Linked DNA regions of Homo sapiens. The protein of the gene in region 1 purifies or fractionates together with the protein of each later gene. This does not show direct contact. Each region holds a gene or a part of one and is shown on either strand. Other genes may lie near its edges.

Region 1 (5,502 bases):
ATCTTTGGGTCTTCATTCTGAAGACGCCCATGTCTACATGCTAAATAAATTTGCGTGTCTTTTCTCCTGTTACTCTGCCTTTTGCAAGTTAATTTTTCAGTGAACCTTCAGAGGGCCAAGGAGAAAGGTCTCCCTTGGCCCCTGCAGCTTACCTTCCCATAATAAGGTAGCAGCCCCTGCAGGAAGGGCCACAAGGTCCTCCCTGGGGAAAAGACTGGCACTGGGCTGACAGAAAATGGTCATTTTGGTCCTGGCCCTCTCCTAGAATGAGGCCCACCACAACCAGCATCCATGGAGACAGGGAGGCAGGGAGCCAGGATGGGCCCAGGCCACACTGGGGTCAGTGGCAGATCTCTAGGTCTGCTCAGCCAGGTACCCTGGCCCTTGGGCTCTGGGCCAGCCTCTGCTGGGAGCCCCCAACTCTAGAGCTTCTTTCCTTGGTCACACCAGCTCCACTGGCTCCAGAAGGCCCCACCCTTCCCAAGCTGTACCCCAGGACACAGGCTCATGCTCCCACGGTGCCTTCAAGCTTTATTGCCACACACACTCCCCCAGCCCTTCCTGAATGGCCCTGTGCATGGGAACACCAGCTTAGAGAAGCAATTCAGGGCTAGGCAAGGGCCAGAGGACTGGATTTGGGACTGGGGTGGGTAGGGGGGATCTGGAGAAGGAAAGTGCTAAGACCAAAGCCCACCCCCACCCCAGGTTTCCCTGAGTGGTGTCCACCCCCAGGGTCTTGGGGGCTGGCTTGTGCATTGGGGGGAGGGGGCTCATCCCAAATGGATCCTCCCCTGGGGTCTCCAGGCTCATGGAGGGAAGAGAAGCCCCACTGAGCCCCTCGCACCCCCCATGAAGCCCTCAATGTGCAGGGAGCAGGAAGAAGAGCTGCACACAAACGCATACACATGCTTGTCTCCAAGAGAGCTCCTGGCCCCTGGGGCTGCCCAGCCAGGGGCTCAACAGTCCAGACCGATGGACACGAGCAGGTCCTCGAGTGCCCGCAGACGCTGCTGCGCCTCCTCTATGGCGCTGTAGGTCTGCACCGTGCTGGCCACGTGGAAGCGGATGTCGTCCACCAGCGGGATAGAGTCCGTCTCCTGCCGGGCTGCCACAGCCGCTGCCTCCTCCTTCACCGCCTCCACGAAGTCCTCCCGCTCCACCAGCTATGAGCGGGAAGGGCCAGCTCAGTGGAGGGGTGCCTGCCCTCTCACCCCTCCTTCCCACCCACTGCAGACCACTGGCCCACCTTCTCAATGACCTTGGCCATGTACTCAGTGCACTGGTCCTCAAGCCGCGCCAGGCGGAAGAGCTTGGCCACGCGCCACACACCCACCACAGTGTCCTCGTCTAGCATCTGAGCCAGGCTGCGGCCGCACAGCCTCTTCAGGCCTGGCAGCAGGTACATGTCGGCGACGCTCAGCACATCATAGGCTGCCTCGGGGGACAGCTGCAGTGAAGACAGGGATGAAGGTGCCCCCCGAGGTCACCAAGGGCTCCCAGGGCACAACAGCCAAGGCTAGGGCCTGTGGTGGTTGGGGGGCACTGGCGGGAAGGCTTCCAGTGGGAGTAGGAGCTCCCTGCGCATGTATGGGGTTGGGGGTCGGGGGGCTGGCCCAGATTCCCACAGGGATCTGCAGGACCGCTAGGGGGCAGAAGACTGGGGGGTTCTCCCATGCCCTGAGCAGGCTGGCAGGGCAGGCGGGAGGCAGGGCCCTCGCAGGAGCCAGGGTCTGAGCTCCGAGTTATACAGACCTGGGTCTGACACTTCTAGCTGTGGGGCCCTGGGCAAGTCACTGCACCTCCCTGTGCCTCTAGTTCCCAGTCCATGAGGTATAGATAACCATGCCTACCTGCGGGGGCTGTCAGAATGGTGGGACAGAGGCAGCTAGTCAAGACCTATGCAGGGACTCTGCCAGGGGTGGGAGACTATCTACCAGCTCCCTCCCTCTCAAGAGGCTGTGGGGACACAGAGCCCACCTACAGATACATCCTGTGCTGGATAAGACTGAAGCCCTCAGATTCAGGCCAGAGCCTGGGTGGCACAGGGAGCAAGCTGCAGACAGAGACAAGGGGAGCTCTGCGACCACATTACAAGCCATGTGCCATGTGCCATGCCACCTCCTTTACCTGGGTAACCCATGCATCTGCACAAGGCCTTAGGAAGTGACGACGAGAGCTATCCCCATGTTCTAGAGGCACAGAGCAGTTAAGTAACTGGCCCAAGATCACAAAGCTCACCCAGTGTCACACAGCTCAACCAGTATCAACCCAGGTTAAGAGCCCAAGCCACACTCTGAGACAAGGTGCCCTTTGGGTGGCGAGGCTCCTTGAAGAGGGAGCTTCTCCAGGGTGGGCAAAGGTAACCCCTGCTACAGGGGCCAGAGAGCTGGGCTGAGCTGCAGGAGATGCCCAGTAGAGGGGGTGGGAAAGATGGAGGCTGAGGGGCTGTCAGGCCGCGCGGAGGGATGGACAAGGGAGCTGCCACTGGAGATAGAGCAGCAGTAGGGACTGCCCTCTGTCTCCCAGCATGCTTCCTCCCCTTCCCCCACAAAACAGGGCCCTGGCCACAGAATGACTTTCCAAGCCTCCCTTGTTGGCAGGTAGGCACGAAGTTCTCTCCAGGGGAACATGAGAAGTGGTGCAATTTCCGGTGGCTTCTACAAAAACAGCATTGCTTGCCCTGCCTTCCTCTTCCTCCTAGAGCATGAGTTTGCCTAGGACCCAATCTCCATGGCCAAACGCGATGCCCCAGGCAGGATGGGTAAGCTACGGCCTGTGGACCAAATCCAGCCTGTTTGTGCAAGTAAAGTTTTATTGGAATGCAGCCTCACCCACTCATCTCTGTACTGTCTCTGGCTACCTTTGCGCTACAGAGTTGAGTAGCTACAACAGGGCCATATGGCCCACAGAACCTGAAACACTCACCTTCAGAGAAAAGGTTTTTGACCTTCACCCTTAGGCATACAGGGGCAAGATGGAGGGATGACCTGATCTTCCGCAAGCCACTTGCCCTGGGGCACCCACCTCAGTCAGAAGTGAAGGAGAAACAAACTCCCCTCTTCTTTAAGCCACCAGATATGGGGATTGCTTTATAGTGCGCGCGCACGCGCACGCACACACACACTCTCTCTCTCTCTCACACACCCTGGCAGAGCAAACCTTCAGCACTCTGCTGCTGCCCTGCAGCCTTGGCTTACGGACACCTTGGGGCAGCTGGAGACAGAGGCAGGCAGCAAGGGAAGAGGAGACTGGGAACCCAGAACCCCAGGGATCTGCAGCACCACAGAGAGGAGGCTGTCCCCACCCACCCTCCACCCTCCTGCTAGAGAAGCTGAGGATCCCAAGTGGCTGACAAGTGTGGAGTGTCTGTGACACAGGCTCATCACTCATCCTCTCTCTGGAGCCCAACAAGGCTTCCTCTACCTGAAAGAAAAATCCAAAGTCCCACAGCCTTCCCCTCCAGCCTTCTCAAAACGTCAACCATGGGGCCAGCTGGGCCCTTCCACAGACCCCCAGGGCCCTGGCGCTCCCTCTCAGCCCACGGCAGCACAGGTTGTGTGCCATCCCCAGCTCTGCCTGAGCCCCCACCTCAGTGTGGTCGCTGTACATGTAGTAGAGCACGTGAGTGAAGACGTCGGGTGAGATGCCATGCAGGGTGACGGCTGGGGGGCCCCCTGAGGTCGCTGGCTCCTCGCTCTCTCGGAAGTGGTCATCCAGCAGGGCTCGGAAGTAGTCACTGCGGCCACAGAAAAAGGCCTGGGGGAGGCCGGGCTCAGGAAGTGTGAGGGCCAGGGTCTGTCTCCTGAGGAGCTAGACGGGGGCTCAGGGCAACGGGCTGGGGCCAGGGGCAACAGGAGGGCACAGGCACCTTGTGGCAGAGGAAGCTGCAGCCAGCCACTCGGAAGCAGATGTCAGGGCAGCTGTTGAAGCCGTCAGGACAAGGGAAGGGCAGCTCCCAAAGATCACCCTGGGGTACAGAAGAGGTGACCCCATCAGAGCAGTTGTTCACAGAAGTGAACGACTAGGTTCAGAAAAGGGAAGTAACTGGTCCAGGACCACACAAGGAATTGAGCCCAAGTATCTGGGCTGCCTGTCACGGCCTGCCATCCCAAAACGCCCTTCCTGCCCACCAGCCCCGCACTTACTCGGAGCTCGGGGGGCAGGGCACAATCGGCCAGCAGCGCCATGTCCTCCCGGAGGCGGGGGTCTGCAGGTGGGGGCTCGATGGTCAGCACCTTCACACACGTGCCTGGCTTAGACGCCACTACAGGGGAAGAACAACTTCAGGGAGCCAGGCCAGCCCTGCCAGGCCGCACCCATGGCCCCGGGCCCCAAACCCTGCTCGCACCAAACTCAGACACCTTCTCGCACTTGGCCTCCAGGTCGCTGAGCAGGTCCCACAGCTGGCATTGCTTGGCCAGGCGCTCACAGTCACTCACATGCTCTACGCCAATGTCCAGGCGGCCTGGGGGCAGTGGGGAGGATGAGGGCCTGCGGGACCTCAGCTGTCATCAGGCCCACAGAAAAAGGGTGATCCCCTCCCACCTGGCCACCTGGCTGCAGGACTAGGACTCCTGGGCCCACTTGCCACCATGGTTTCCCCATCAAAAGCTGTTCTACAGGCCCCAGGGAACAGATGGGAGGGCCTCAGCATGTGGGTGGGACAAGCTCTTCCTGAGCAGGCACACTAGTCCTCTCTCTTGCAACCCAACCCGAGAGGCAGCTGGAACCACCCCGGGGGGACCATGAAGTGTCTAGAGGTGAAAGGTCAGCCCAGCCACACCTAGGTGTACTGCTGTCCAGAAGGACGGCCCACTCCCTCTCCTCCTACCCTGGACCCAGGGGGTCACCTGTGTACAGGTACTGCAGCAGGGCCCCAAAGGCCACGGGGTTGATCTGTGGGCAGAAAACCAGAAAGTAATGTCAGAGGCAGCCACCCAGCACAACCTCCTGCTGTTCCTGGACAGTTCATGCCCCTCTGCCACCCTGAAGGGACATACCAGTGGGTGCCTGAGAACCACGACACTCTTGCCCTTCCATTTGGTGTCCAGCATGTTGGCAAAGTAGGCACTACGTGCACCCAGGACGCAGCGATGCACCCGGAATGGCTTCCCGTGTACTACAAAGACCACGTCACTGTGGATGCCCTGCTCTAGAAGCCTGGGGAGGGACAAGCCAGGAGGGAGGATACTTGGCACAGCCCCACCCCATTCCTCGGAGCACTCAGAACCCAGTGCAGGCCACAGTCAGAGCAGACTCGCCACACCCACCAGGGCCACCGCACCCCATGCTGCACCCCTCGTGTGCCCTGGCTCACCGCTGCAAGAAGTCGTCATAGTAATCCCGCCTCCTGCAGGAAGCCGTGACCTGCTTGTAATCGCGTAGAGCCCGGCGGATGGGGTCACTCAGTGCCCCATAGAGGCAGCGCTCACCATCGAAGGTGTTGGCCTCGCAGCGGGCTCCTGGGGGAGGCAGGGCTCACCAGTTAGCAGGGAAGGGGCC
Region 2 (7,500 bases), on another chromosome or scaffold:
CAGATCACCTGATGTGAGGAGTTCGAGACCAGCCTGGCCAACATGGTGAAACCCCGTCTCTACTACAAATATAAAAATTATTACGTGGCTGGGTGTGGTGGTGCACGTCTGTAGTCCCAGCTACTCGGGAGGCTGAGGCAGGAGGATCACTTATACCCAGGAGGCAGAGGTCGCAGTGAGCTGAGATTGCACCACTGCACTCCAGCCTGGGTGAGGGAGCGAGACTCTGTCTCAAAAATAATAATAATAATTTTTAAAAACAAATAGGAATTTACATGCCTACCATATACCCACAACAGTTAAACATTAAAAACAAAAACAGAAACAATAGGGATTGATTCTTTCACAGCTCCAGAGGCCAGAAGTTCCAAACCAAGGCGTCCGCAGGGTGGGTTCCTTCAGAGGCTCTCCAGGAGGTCCTTCCTTGCCTCTCTCCTGGCTTCTGGTGGCCACCGGCCATCCTTGGCTTGTGCTACATCACTCCAATTGCTTCCCCCTTCACACCTATCTCTGTATCTCTGAATCTCTCTCTCATAAAGACACTAGGCATTGGATTAGGACCCATTCTAATCCAGGATGACCTCATTTTAACTTGATTATATCTGCAAGGACGCCTTTTTCAAATAAAGCCAGCCAGGTCCAGTGGCTCACGCCTGTAATCCTCTCACTTTGGGAGGCCAGGGCGGGAGGATCACTTGAGCCCTGGAGTTCAAGACCAGCCTGGGCAACATAATGAAACCCCATCTCTACAAAAAATATAAAAAATTAGCCACGTATGGTGGTGCACATCTGTGGTCCCAGCTACTCAGGAGGCTGAGGTGGGAGGATCACTTGAGCCCACGAGGTTGAGGCAGCAGTGAGCTGTGATTGCACCACTGCACTCCAGCCAGGGTGACAGAGCGAGACCCTGCTTTAAAAAAAAATAAAATAATAAATGAATAAAAATCAAGTCACAGTCGCAGGTACCAGGGGTTAGAACATGGGCATAATCATTTTGGGGGGACCACAGCTCAACCCACAACAGGCTTGTCTTGGGACCCCCCCGGGAGTTGGCAGCAGAGCTGGGAGCTCACCTGAGTGTATTCGTCTCTAACGCTGCGCTACCCTGGCTTGCAGGCCATGTGACATTTCTTTCCCTAAAAGTGGTTTGGGTAGGGCCTGAGCTGCTGGCTGTGCCAGCAAAGAAATCACTCTGCTTTAGTCACCTCAAAGCAGTGGGCCCAGCGACACCCTGCTGCCCATGGACACTGAGGGGGACTGTCCATCCTCTGGCATGGAAAGAGCAGCGTTCTTGGAGAACTTGGCCTTGGCCCTTAGGAGACTCAAGGGAGAGCCCTGCACGGTGGCCACTGGTGGCCGAGGAAAGTCCAGCTGCCCGGGGAAGGTGCTGTTCACTCACCTGCTGCCCATGGCCCAGGGCCAGACCAAGGCATCAGCCCCTCAGCCATCCAGAACAGGCCAGTGAAGCTTCCAGGATGGGTCTGCACTTGCGGAATATTTAGTAGGCAGGGTTCTGTGTGATGTCCTTACCCTACGTGCTCTTGTGAAATCCTCATTATCAGTTTGCTGGGGCTGCCAGGCTTGGGGGCTTCAACAAGGATTTATTGTCTCACAGTTCTGGAGGCTGGAAGTCTCAGGTCAGGGCATCAGCAGGGTGGGCTCCTTCTGGGGCTGTGAGGGAGAATCTGTCCCAGGCTGTCCCCTGACTTCTGGTGATTTGCTGACAATGTTTGGTGCCCTTTGGCTTGTGAAGCATCGCCCCAGTTTCTGCCTTTATCTTAACATGGCACCCTCCCTGCTTGTCAGTGTCCAAATTTCCTCCACTTAAACATTTTAATTAATTGGCTGGGCATGGTGGCTCACGCCTGTAATCCCAGCACTTTGGGAGGCCGAGGCGGGCGGATCATCTGAGGTCGGGAATTCGAGACCAGCCTGGCCAACATGGAGAAACCCGTCTCTACTAAAAATACAAAATTAGCCGGGCATGGTGGCACATGCCTGTAATCCCACCTATTCGGGAGGCTGAGGCAGGAGAATCTCTTGAACCTGGGACACTGAGGTTGCGGTGAGCCAAGATGGCACCATTGCATTCTAGCCTGGGCAACAAGAGTGAAACTCCGTCTCAAAAAATTTTTTTAAATTAATTTATATATGTGTATTTATTTATTCATTTATTTATTTTAGAGACAGGGTCTCACTCTGCACCCAGGCTGGCATGCAGTGGCACAATCATAGCTCACTGCAACCTGAAACTCTGGGGCTCAAGCCATCCTCCCTCTTCAGCCTCCCAGAGAGCTGGGATTACAGGTGTGAGCCACCATGCCCAGCTGAAATTTTCCCTTTTTACAAGGATATCAGTTATACTGGATTAACGTCCCCCCTAATGACCTCATCTTATGACTTTATCATCTGCAAAGACCCTATTTCCAAATAAGGTCACATTCACAGGTCCTGGTGGTTATAGGATTTCCACATCTTTTGGGAGAGACACAATGCAACCCATAACAACCTGTAACCCAATGTGCTGTCCCAAAGAACTACAACACCAGGGGGATGCTGAGGTTCAGAGAGTGTCCTTGCCCTGGTGGTAGGGCTGGGACGCAGCAGGACTGGGGAGGCGGGACCCACTGCTGCTAGACACTGCAGCACTCTTAGACACAGCTCGGCCACCTGAGCAGGTGATCATTTCCCAGTTCCGCTCTGCAGACCCTTTTTTTTTTTCCCAGTAGAGATGAAGTTTCACTATGTTGGCCAGGCTGGTTTTGCACTCCTGACCTCAAATGACCTGGCCGCCTTGGTCTCCCAAAGTGCTGGGATTACAGGCGTGAGCCACAGTGCCCGGCCCCACTTTGCAGATTTAAAAACAAGACATCTGGAAGCTCAGAGAAGTTAAACTCACCCCAGGTCTTACAGCCAAACTCTGGCTTGCCTGACCTGATGTCAGGAGGCTTTCTTAGTGCAAGAAAGGAAGGGCAGGGCAAGCCTTAGCCGAATGTTTATCTCTAAGAGGCTTCTGACTCTCCTGGGCGCCTCCGGTTCCTTCTCCCAGGAAGGCATGTGGCCGAGCTGGGCTTGGGTGACTCATGGTCCTAGAGTGATGAGTGAGAAACAGGCACTGTGAGAGTCATGGTAGGACCTGGCCAGAACTTCGTCCCCTAAGTCCTGGACTTGGTCCCTCCTTTGGGATTAGTTGGGGTCTCACAGAGCCTCCCACATCCTGGGCAAGTTACAGCACATGCTACAGGATCTTTGCAGAAATGTAAACAAACTCTTTCTTCTTTTTTTTTTCCAGCCACCAGTAGAATTTAGAATTTATTTATTTATTATTTTATTTATTTATTTATTTATTTATTTATTTGAGACGGAGTCTCACTCTGTTGCCAGGCTGGAGTGCAATGGCGCAATCTCGGCTCATTGCAACCTCCACCTCCCTGGTTCAAGCGATTCTCCTGCCTCAGCCTCCTGAGTAGCTGGGACTACAGGCAAGCGCCACCATGTCCAGCTAATTTTTGCATTTTTAGCAGAGACAGGGTTTCACCATGTTGGCCAGGATGGTCTCGATCTCTTGCCCTCATAATCCGCCCACCTCGGCCTCCCAAAGTGCTGGGATTACAGGTGTGAGCCACCGTGCCCGGCCTTAGAATTTATTATGAAATTAGACATGAGGTTCCAAAAAGTAACTAGAAGATTTTTTACTTTTTATTTTTTGAGAAAGGGTCTCACTCTGTCGCCTAGGCTGGAATGCAGTGGCACAGTCGTAGCTCACTGCAGCTTCAAACTCCTGGACTCAAATGATCCTCCTGCCTTGTCCTTTCAAGGTGCTGGGATTACAGGCATGAGCCACTAATCCTGGCTAATAATTTTTCTTGACATATTAAAATTCTGTTTCTTAAATAGCATTTCCTCTCATTTTGGATGGGTGCACGAACCTTGGGTGGGATATCCTTGGGAGGTGACATCATGCACACAGAAGGCAGGAGCCCTAAGGGGGTTGGGGATGGCTCCAGAATGGGGTCTGAGAAGGAGATGGAGAAGCCTGTTCACGCAACACTTCATAGTGGCTTGCTTTCCGCAGGGTCATTGGCAGGGCGGTCCCTAGGCCTGGAGCGCTCTTCCCGCCCATCCCCAGGCCCTGCTCCAGGTCGGCCTCCTGGGAACCATCCCGTCTCGCCAGCACACCCTGTCCCGAGGCCGCCTCTGACCTCCAGGCTGGGCCTGGTCCCCACGGCGCTTAGCGCAATCATGACTTAAACACCTATTACAGGACGCTCAGTCTTTAGTGCTTGTCTCCCCGCGGCTGGGCTGACTACTCCCAGCACGGCCACTGAACGCTTGGCCGCGCGATGCTCCGGAGCGCGGGTCGCCATTGGGTTGAACTACAGCTCCCAGCATGCTCCGGGCCGGCGACATCCGGAGCCCCTGGTAGTTGCCTAGCGACCGGGCGTGTCCCGGAAGACGGGCCCGGCGTGGGGCGCGACTTCCGGGGCGGCGGTTGCATCAGATTCTAGGAAGTGTCTGTAGCCGCAGCTGCGGGTCCGGGATTCCCAGCCATGGCAGATTCCTCCGGGCAGCAGGGTGAGCGGCGCGGCCGGGCCAGGCTGAGGGCGGCTGGGGGCCTGACTGGGCGCTGGGTGCTCGGCTCGAAGGGCAGCGAGTCCTTATGTCTGAGGGGCCCGGGTGCATGGGTTCTGAGGGGCAGCTGTGTCCGTGGTCTGAGGGGCGGCAGTGCCCGAGGTCTGAGGGGTGTCAGTGCGCGGGGTCTGAGGGACGGCACGTCCTTGGGTCCGAGGGGCGGGGGTGCTCGGGGTCTGAGGGGTGTCAGTGCCCGGGGTCTGAGGGACGGCGGGTCCTGAGGTTCGAGGGGTGGCACGTCCTAGGATCCGAAGGACAACGGGTGCCCGGCTCCGAGGGACGGCCACTGGGACCCCTGGGACTCCTGCGTGAGGGTCTGCCAGACCCGTGGCTGGAGCACAGACCCCGCGGGGACCCGAGCCCGAGCGGGGCGCTGCCCAGACCACCCAGCCTCAGTTTCCTCACTTGGTTCCTGCCGAGGTCCCCTTGCATCCTCACCCCGGGAGGTGGCCCTACATCAAACAGCCTTTCCCCAGCCGGTGCCTGGGCGGGCCCTCGCTCCCTCTTGCCCCAGCTGGCCTTTAGGGGGGAGACAAAGGCCCAAGGGTTGTTTTGGTTTTCTGCCCAGACCTGGCAGCTTCCGGGAGGTGGGCGGAGGGCACCTGAGGTTGGTATTTAGGGAAATGGGGCAGAGGACGCCAGGGGTACGCGTACACACAGTAAAAGGGCTTGGGGCTTTACGAAGGCTTTCATCTCCAGTTCCGCAGGCAGTCCACTGCAAGCTGATTGTCAGAGCATTACTGCCCCATTTTATTGCCAACCCGGGAGGTTCCCCAGGGACACAGCTGTGTCAGCTCCCCCAGTCACTCATGTCACCAGCGGGTAGACCTTGAGAGACCAGTGGGTTCTTCTCTCACTGTCCCTCCAGCAAGATTTTAGGTGCTGGAAAGGCAAGAGACTGAATCAGAAAGCCCAGATTCCTAACAGTCTGGAGCAGCCTTTCCAAAGGAAACATTCTCAGTATCTAGTTTTTAATTCTTTTGGCTGGCAAAAATTAGATGCAAGTTCTTGTAAGACACCTCCAGCCCCCACCCTCAGTTTAGATCGTACCAAGATTTCCTTAGCATCTGGTGGTGCCCTTTGCCCCTGAGGGTTTATTGGGTTATAGATAGGTAGTTATGACAACCCGAGTAATCTGGCGGCATGGGGACACCCAGATGACAGGGCTACACTCTTGTGCCAAGTGGCAGGAGGTGGTCACCTTCCAGGCACGCCGCCTACCACCCTACCTGTGTGCCTGGATTCCAGCACCATCTCCACCCGTCCCAGAGCCAAGCGGCCCTCAGAAGTCACCCAGATTCCTGTAAAACAGCATCATAGTTAACAGCCCCAACTCTGGAACCACCCTGGAAGGGCCAGGGTTCCAACTCTGCCTCCCGCCCCACAGCAAACCATGCGTAATGGCTCCTACCTTGGAGCATGGAGTGTAAATGAATTAATAGATGGGAAGGACGTAGAACAGTGCCTGGCACTCAATTAAGTGCTGTGTCTGTGCTGAAAGTTAGGGCCTGTTTGTTTTCAAACTAAAAATGTGTTTTTGTTCATTTGTGAACGTAAATGACGTATTAGTAGTGTTTTGTATCTTGTTTTTAAAAATAGCTTTAGAATTTTAGGTTTTCAGAGCCTTGTAAGAATTGCCTTCTTTTTGGAGCTTGCCATATAGGTTGGGATTGCCCTCTCCGGGCTGTCAGGGCAGCAGGCAGATTGCCCAGTCCTCAGCCTGCGCACAGCATCTCCAGCCAGTGTTCTTCTGCCCCAGGGCATGGCCCACCTGCCTTTACTATCGCCTCCTCCCATCACACACACACTCTCAAAGATGAGAACAGGAAATAAAATCCAATCGTAGGCCAGGCGCAGTGGCTCACACCTGTAATCCCAGCACTTTGGGAGGCCGAGGCAGGCAGATCACGAGGTCAGGAGATCGAGACCATGGTGAAACCCTGTCTCTACTAAAAATAAAAAAAAAATTAGCCGGGCGCGGTGGCGGGCGCCTGACTACTCGGAGGCTGAGGCCGGAGAATGATGTGAACCCAGGAGGCGGAGCTTGCAGTGAGTCGAGATTGCGCCACTGCACTCCAGCCTGGGCGACAGAGCGAGACTCCGTCTCAAAAAAAAAAAAATCCAATCGTAAATGCTTTCAGTGACCATCTTCCCAGATTTTTCAAGGAGGCCATCATTTTTGTACCATCTTCCCTAAGTTGACTCAGAAGGTCTATTTCTCTTTCCTGATCTCACTGGGTGTACAGCTTTTCCTTTGCGGTCTTGAAGGTGCATAGGCTTGGTGCCTGTCCAAGAGCCTGATTATTTCAGAAGGATGAGTTTCATTTCTGAGGTTTCTGGGGTAGATGGAGCCTACCTCAGGGCCTTTCCGCACAGACTTGGGATACCACTTGGTCGGCTGCTCATCAGGTCAGACTTATAGTTTAATTTTTATACAGTTTAATTCAAGGGTCTTCATAATAACACAGCCAGCATTTTTTCAGCATGAGTCTGTGCCAGGCACTGCTCTAAATGCTTTGCATCTGTTATCTCCTGCCACCCTTGGGGGAACCCCTTTGAGGAAGATCCTGCCGGCATCTTGTACAGATGAGAATCCTGAGGTTCAGAGAAGTCAAGCAATCTGTCCACCATCACGACTAGCCAGAGGCACAGCCAGGCTCCCAACCTGGGCAGCCTGACTCAATAGGGACCTTAACTGCTGTGCTGTGCTGCCTTTGATGATTCTCTTCAGACTCACAATAGCTCAACCCAGTGAGTTAAGGCAGACGAGAATAAAGCTGATGCCCTTCGATGTTTTCCCCAGAGCCACATGAAATGTTTGCTCCTCTATGAACTCAGGTACCATGTTTCCGGGTATTTGAAGAGCCT

What was found.
Region 2: the proteins of ABTB1 (region 1) and CARS1 purify together in Homo sapiens (affinity purification with mass spectrometry; 2 studies listed by BioGRID and IntAct, with this or other methods). This does not show direct contact.

Annotation. Positions count from the first base shown.
Region 1 is NC_000003.12:127,675,930-127,681,431, reverse strand, and holds the end of ABTB1 (ankyrin repeat and BTB/POZ domain-containing protein 1), read right to left. Parts: intron 5,463-5,502; coding exon 5,318-5,462; intron 5,161-5,317; coding exon 5,001-5,160; intron 4,897-5,000; coding exon 4,851-4,896; intron 4,466-4,850; coding exon 4,349-4,465; intron 4,265-4,348; coding exon 4,146-4,264; intron 3,968-4,145; coding exon 3,869-3,967; intron 3,757-3,868; coding exon 3,589-3,756; intron 1,448-3,588; coding exon 1,247-1,447; intron 1,164-1,246; coding exon 957-1,163; 3' UTR 506-956; downstream 1-505. UniProt on the Homo sapiens protein: May act as a mediator of the PTEN growth-suppressive signaling pathway. May play a role in developmental processes.
Region 2 is NC_000011.10:3,054,418-3,061,917, reverse strand, and holds the start of CARS1 (cysteine--tRNA ligase, cytoplasmic), read left to right. Parts: upstream 1-4,494; 5' UTR 4,495-4,550; coding exon 4,551-4,575; intron 4,576-6,878; exon of another isoform or gene 6,879-6,977; coding exon of another isoform or gene 6,978-7,041; intron 7,042-7,500. UniProt on the Homo sapiens protein: Catalyzes the ATP-dependent ligation of cysteine to tRNA(Cys).